Homo sapiens: one gene and its partner. The protein of the gene in region 1 purifies or fractionates together with the protein of each later gene. This does not show direct contact. Each region holds a gene or a part of one and is shown in the gene's direction. Other genes may lie near its edges. The genes, in order: SPDEF and MECOM.

The links.
Region 2: the proteins of SPDEF (region 1) and MECOM purify together in Homo sapiens (affinity purification with mass spectrometry; 3 studies listed by BioGRID and IntAct, with this or other methods). This does not show direct contact.

What each region holds. Positions count from the first base shown.
Region 1 is NC_000006.12:34,546,330-34,549,829, reverse strand, and holds part of SPDEF (SAM pointed domain-containing Ets transcription factor), read left to right. Parts: intron 1-3,500. UniProt on the Homo sapiens protein: May function as an androgen-independent transactivator of the prostate-specific antigen (PSA) promoter. Binds to 5'-GGAT-3' DNA sequences. May play a role in the regulation of the prostate gland and/or prostate cancer development.
Region 2 is NC_000003.12:169,082,844-169,086,969, reverse strand, and holds the end of MECOM (histone-lysine N-methyltransferase MECOM), read left to right. Parts: intron 1-1,926; coding exon 1,927-2,061; 3' UTR 2,062-3,463; downstream 3,464-4,126.

The sequences.
Region 1 (3,500 bases):
GGGGCTGAGCAGCAGGGCCAGAGTGGCCATCTCTGTCACTCCCTCAGTGCTCTTCTCAATGGGGACTAAAGCTGGGGTCTTGGGCTCTGGGCGGGCTGGCATTGGGTCTCAGGATTGAGGTAGGGGTGAGGATACATTTACCCCACACCACCATCTCCCCAGGAGGTAGGGCCTGAGAGCCGGGACCAAGCAGGATATGGAAGACAGGCTCCAACCCGCACAGCGACCTGGGTCCTTAGCAAACGCCTCCCAGGTGACTCCATTCCCGGAAACTGTGGTTCGGGAGCTGTCAGGGAGGGCATCTTTTGCTGATGCCAGTTGGGGTGTGGGAGTGAAAACCTGGGAGGCAAAGGGTTCAAGGGGCACATTTCTAGCCCCGAGGGGTGAGAGTAGGCAGGGTAGTGGCAGGAAAAGCTGCACTAAATCTCTCCTTTTGGGTCCCTCTGCTCACTTTCCTTAATCTTCCTTCCTGGGGGAATGGAAGGCGCTGAGAGAAGGGGCCCAAGGTGGCTAATCCCCCTGGCCGCCACCCCACCATTCTGCTCCTGTCTCTGGGCCTTGGCCTCCACCAGCTGTTACCAAACTTTCTTTGTCTGGAGTGGGATCTGGGGCCTCTGGAGCAGGAGGGAGCCAGGACACGCTGAGCCTTAATCCAGACATGTGGCTTAATCCAGAAGAGATCAACTCGAGGTTTGGGAGCTGGAGGCATCGCTCAGGAGACGGCAGCCCGTGGGACTGGCAGGCCAAGGCTGCAGGAACGCTGGGTCCTGCCATCTGAGGACCCTGGACATGGCAGACACCTGGCACGTCCCAGGACCCTTGGCCTACGGAGCAGTGGCCTGAGTGTCAGGAGGCCTCTGGTCTGGCCCTGGCTGTGCTGTGTGACTGTGGGCACCTCCCTGCCACTCTTTGAGCCTGAGCTTTTCCAGTGCACATGTGTCCCCATGGGTGGACCATCACTGATGGATTTAATCCTGGGCTGAATTGCATGGCACAGATGAGGCGAGCCTAGGAAGTCGCAGGAGGGAGCTATTAGGGAGGGCTCGCTGGGGCAGGAGGGCTTTGGGATGAATTGTGATGAGAAGGAAAGGGCATCTTAGAAAATAGCCATGTTGTGCCCACAGCACAGGGGCAGGTATGAAATGCCATTCTCATTAGAGCTTGGATTTGTGGTCACTATGTCAATCCCTGGTTCTGGTCCGGACCCTGCTGCTAATAAGCACATGAATCCCTTCCCCACTCTGGGCTTCATTGTTCCCATTCTATGAAACAATCACATAATATATGGCCCCTTCCAGCTCTGATTATCTGGGCCAGGTAGGAGGTAGACTCAGAGGTAGGCACCAGCCACTGGGATGGGGCAATGGGGAGCCATGGGAGATTCTTGAGCACAGGGGTGTCTGATGAAAGGGTGCTGCAGGGATATGAACAGTGGGGTGGAATGAAGAGCCAAGAGGTGGGGACAGACTTTAGAGCATCAAGGAGCCCAGTCAGGAGGTGGGCAGATCCCCTAGGAAGATGGGACTGGCCAGAGCATGCACCTCAGAGAGAATGTGGTCCAGTGAGCAGAACCCACACCTGGCCAGGAAGAACCCTGGACAAGCTGCACAGCCTCCCTGAGCCTCACTGTCCGCATCTATAAAGCAGGGCTCTGGAGTCCACGTCACCCTGGCTGTGGGTAGGAAAGCGGGTGATGTGGGTGAAAGCCTGGGCGTGGCACTGGTGCTCACTGCCAGGGGCTCACAGTGCCGTTCTCTCTTCTTCCCTCCTGAGGCCAGCCCAGAACCTTGAGACGCCTAGTTGCAGGTTGGGCACACCAGCCCTGGCTGCCTGACCAGTAAGCCAAGCCCCCCTACTCTAGGCCTGGGCTGCCTTGGGGACGGAGCATTCCCCACCACCCCTGATCTGCAGAGAGTCGAACCTTTCCTCCAACCACACAGTTAACCATTAACTTATTTTTCATCAGGGAAGTGTTGGAGCTAGGACCGAGGCTTGGTGGGGAGTAGATTCCTTGGCATTTAGGTATAGGGCAAGGTCAAGCTGGAATGTGGGGTATAGAGGGTGAAGGAGCCCGAGCCAGGAGTCAAAAGACCTGGATTTGGGGATTTACCTCTCTGCACCTTGACTTCCCCATTAGCAAAGTAGGGATGAGAATAAGACCTGGGCCAGATGAGGTAGCTTGTGCCTATAATCCCAGCAGTTTGGGAGGCTGAAGCAGGGGGATCACTTGAGCCCAGGAGTTCGAGACCAGCCTGGGCAACATAGTGAGACCATGTCTCTACAACAGATTTTAAAAATTAGCCAGGCATGATGGCACACACCTGTAGTCCCAGCTACTTGGGAGGTTGAAACAGGAGGATCACTTGAGCCCAGGAGGTCGAGGCTGCAGTGAGCCATGATCATGCCCCTGCACTCGACAGAGCGAGACCTTATCTCAAAAAAAGAGAGAGTAAGGCCTGTGCTGCCTTTCTCCTGGCAAGGGGATGGATGTGAGGGCTTCACATGCACTCAGCAAATGTGTCAAGGATGTGTCATTATATGCCTTCCTGGCAAAAGCTGCCACCTGCCCTGCCCATTCATCCCCACCGACCCCACACAACCATGCCTGAAACACAGCAGCTGCCTCCTGTCCTACCTGTGGCTGAGGCCAAGCAAACAGGAGGGCCACAAGGGAAGCGAGTTCTGCTTCTTGGAAAAGCTTCTGTCTCCCTGGCATGGCGCCCAGGGTGTTGGCAGAGACTGTCCTAACGTGGCAGGCATGGGGGCTCTGGGGATGTGGACGGGGCAGGAGGCAGGCAGGGGGTGATGAAGGAGGGGTGGGGGGCTGCGGGGGGGGGTCCCCAGGGGTGGAGCCACCTAGCGGGTAGGGCATGGGCACCAGGCAGGGTGGGGCCCAGGGGCAGAGCGAGCTGTTGGCACTGCCTGAGTAAATAATGTGGGCCCACAGCACACACGAGTGTTTGCACAGAAGGACTTGAAATGATTCCAGGTCTGCCCTCTGTCCCCCACATCCCCAGCCCCGCCTTGGTCTCTGCCCACCCCACCCCACCCTGACCTTTCCTTCCTTGTCACTTAAAGGAGCCCTTGAATGGGAGAGTTGAAATCAAAGGGAACACCCTTCCCTCCTGCTGGCATTTTCTCCACCACAGGAAGCTGCAGGGCTGCCATGTAACACTGGGAAGGTTGGGCACTGCACAAGGAGGGTGGGCAGAGGAAGCTGAAATTCTACCTAGGCTCCATTCGTCAAGCTATGCTATCCAGGGGGAAGGGATGTCATTTTCTGAGTTGTGTGAAATTGAATGGGCTAGCTGTGGCCCTACCGAAGTGGAGGTGTCTTCCAGACTGGGTTCTTTCCCTTGTCCCACCTGCAGAAGCAAATGCCAGCTGCATACGGAGGCTGCGCGGGTCAGTCTCACAGGGTAACTGGAGATGGATCAGGGAGCCCCCTTCCCCTCCTGCTGTCCCAGTAGGGCACCATAAATGTCACTGTTAGAGAGGAT
Region 2 (4,126 bases), on another chromosome or scaffold:
TTTATTAACTACCAGCTATATGCTGGGCACTGATCCTTATATATGAAAATGTTTATTTCCTTTGATTACCAAAAGGCAGATATGCTGTTTTGCCATTTTCTAGAATCTAAAGGCTCAGATGCTTTAGTCAAAGCATTCATATATTTATTCTGTAATTTTTATAGTCTGTAATTTTTATAGTGATTGAATTGAAAATAGTTGACCAGTACAATAGTAGCTGCATTTTGCATGTGCTCTCCCTCAAGAAACTCTATCCGGTAAAAATTAATTTCATGGTAATAGGTACTATTTATGTATTACCTCAGTCAGGCACACTGAGCTAAACACTTTATGTAAGTTAGTGCATGTGATTCCTCCACAACTCTTGGAGGCCAATACTGTTATTACTATCATCTGTTTTATAGGAGGAAAGTAAAGCTTAAAAGGTTAAGCAACTTGCTCAAGATCACACAGCTAGGTGAGTAGAGGCAGGTTTAAAGGCAGGATTAAAATTTAAATTCCAAAATTTTCTTTGTACTCCTTTTTATCTTCCCAAATATCAGAATTTGTTTTAACTCTTTCAGAGTACTCTTTATCTTGTTCTCTAAAAGTAGGTACATAATCAGAATAGATAATTTAGGTTGAATGCTCACTTAACCCATACTTTAAACTCTGCCAAAGATAAGTACTCTATATTATTTATTCTTAATTTCTTAGGATCTATCACAGAGCCTGGCATAGAGTAGATGCTTAAGAAATATTTGTTAAATGGATCATGAGATATTGTAGAAGTCCAAAAGGCAAATTGCATACATAAAAGTCAAATGTGTACATTTAGAGCGATGACCCAGCAAATCAAAAATCAGCCTACAAGGGTAAATTTTCTAACTAAATGCAATGATTACGGAAGAAACCACAGACTGGCCACATGTCTCAGCATGACTCCCAGAGATGAAATTCTGCCTAACAACAGAGGCATTTTGTCTTTGTTTACAGACAGTGGAATGTCTTTGGCAGGACTTTAATGATTCCACTTCAGCAGCATTTTGACAAGCAAGTTTAGCAATGGATGAGACCAACAATAGCAAATCAACAGTGAAAAGTTCACTTACAAGTCAAGACCAAACATTTCATTTGAATATTTTGCTTGGCAGTAAATAGGGGACTCTCTGAACAGTTATTTAAAATTTGACATGATAATAGGGAAGAAAGAGTACTTCCTCACAGAGCACCTCCATGCACCTTCTGCTCAGCAGACACTGGAAAACAAGTTGATTAGAACACTGTTGGGTCTTGTGTTTGGTTTTATTTTTTTGGTAGAGCTGATTTGATCCACCTCAACTTATGGGTGCCAGGACTGAGTATGTCAAGCATGGAGGGAAATTGGAGAAAAGACAATGGATTAAAAGTTGGGCAGAAATACATTTTAGTTATGCTTCTCCCACTATCTATCTAATTGAGTGACTTTGGGCAAGTCACTCAAGCACCTTCAGTGCTTTCGGTTATAAAGTGTAGGAGTCAGGCTGTATCCTCTACTAGGCCACAGCTCTGTCAAGGTAGGTCTATATCTTATTAATATTTGAGGTTTCAGTCATAAGCACACAATAATATTTTTGGTGAATTGAACATATGTAGTGGATGGATGACTGTATTTATAGTTGAACAGGAGACTGACTCATTTTTCTCAATGGAAGCACTATTTGCATTTTAGGTAGGATAGTTCTTTTTGGTTCTGTAGCGTGTGTCACTTTTGGGGCCCCTAGGCACTAAAGGCCAGCAGTAATCCCATGTGGTTTCTACAAAAAATATGCCTTCTTTGCCAAACACACCCATGAAGGATGCCCCTACTCAGGGTCCCATCCCTTTCCATTTACCAACAATATTCTTTGAACTAAAAGTGATGTTTTTCAAATGCCATTTACTGAGTCTCTCTCCTTTTTACCCCAGGCATATGCTATGATGCTGTCACTGTCTGACAAGGAGTCCCTCCATTCTACATCCCACAGTTCTTCCAACGTGTGGCACAGTATGGCCAGGGCTGCGGCGGAATCCAGTGCTATCCAGTCCATAAGCCACGTATGACGTTATCAAGGTTGACCAGAGTGGGACCAAGTCCAACAGTAGCATGGCTCTTTCATATAGGACTATTTACAAGACTGCTGAGCAGAATGCCTTATAAACCTGCAGGGTCACTCATCTAAAGTCTAGTGACCTTAAACTGAATGATTTAAAAAAGAAAAGAAAGAAAAAAGAAACTATTTATTCTCGATATTTTGTTTTGCACAGCAAAGGCAGCTGCTGACTTCTGGAAGATCAATCAATGCGACTTAAAGTGATTCAGTGAAAACAAAAAACTTGGTGGGCTGAAGGCATCTTCCAGTTTACCCCACCTTAGGGTATGGGTGGGTGAGAAGGGCAGTTGAGATGGCAGCATTGATATGAATGAACACTCCATAGAAACTGAATTCTCTTTTGTACAAGATCACCTGACATGATTGGGAACAGTTGCTTTTAATTACAGATTTAATTTTTTTCTTCGTTAAAGTTTTATGTAATTTAACCCTTTGAAGACAGAAGTAGTTGGATGAAATGCACAGTCAATTATTATAGAAACTGATAACAGGGAGTACTTGTTCCCCCTTTTGCCTTCTTAAGTACATTGTTTAAAACTAGGGAAAAAGGGTATGTGTATATTGTAAACTATGGATGTTAACACTCAAAGAGGTTAAGTCAGTGAAGTAACCTATTCATCACCAGTACCGCTGTACCACTAATAAATTGTTTGCCAAATCCTTGTAATAACATCTTAATTTTAGACAATCATGTCACTGTTTTTAATGTTTATTTTTTTGTGTGTGTTGCGTGTATCATGTATTTATTTGTTGGCAAACTATTGTTTGTTGATTAAAATAGCACTGTTCCAGTCAGCCACTACTTTATGACGTCTGAGGCACACCCCTTTCCGAATTTCAAGGACCAAGGTGACCCGACCTGTGTATGAGAGTGCCAAATGGTGTTTGGCTTTTCTTAACATTCCTTTTTGTTTGTTTGTTTTGTTTTCCTTCTTAATGAACTAAATACGAATAGATGCAACTTAGTTTTTGTAATACTGAAATCGATTCAATTGTATAAACGATTATAATTTCTTTCATGGAAGCATGATTCTTCTGATTAAAAACTGTACTCCATATTTTATGCTGGTTGTCTGCAAGCTTGTGCGATGTTATGTTCATGTTAATCCTATTTGTAAAATGAAGTGTTCCCAACCTTATGTTAAAAGAGAGAAGTAAATAACAGACTGTATTCAGTTATTTTGCCCTTTATTGAGGAACCAGATTTGTTTTCTTTTTGTTTGTAATCTCATTTTGAAATAATCAGCAAGTTGAGGTACTTTCTTCAAATGCTTTGTACAATATAAACTGTTATGCCTTTCAGTGCATTACTATGGGAGGAGCAACTAAAAAATAAAGACTTACAAAAAGGAGTATTTTTCCCCACTGTGTGGTATTTTTCCTTCATGCAATTTTACTTTCCCTTTGGGATCCAATGATTTAAAGATATGATGCTGAGATCTTGATGCCCTACAGATATGTGGAATGTAGAGTATGTTTGTTTTGTTTTGAGATAGCATAAATGATAGTTCTTGGGCAACAATGAGTCTCGCTTATTGTTCTGTACTTTCCCCATGTGGTGCAGTCAGGGCTCAAGTGCACCACAACCCAGTCCTGGTATCACTTCACGTTCACAGCATCCACTTAAATTAGGACAAAGAGCGACTTACAGGTTTTCTACGGATTGTATGCCAAAAGGAACTCAGTTTCTTATTTTTGTTTTTCATTATACGAGTAGTGTTAACTGATTCACAAAGGGGGGAAACCTTTGACTTTTCTATGCTCCTTTTAATTTTTTGTCCACATGCAAAATATCCTTTTTTCATTGTTATAACTGCGTGTAAACAAGATTTATTTTTTCTTTCTTTGCTTGTGTCAAAAGAAAAAAAAATTACACTGCATAGTGCTACAAATTCTTCAAAATAATAATGTAGCAGTTTCCCAATATTCCATCATTTGATCTACTATAATTTCCTCCACCACTTTAATTTTGTTGAAGATTTTTCTGCTATTTGCTAGTCAGCAATTATATTTTA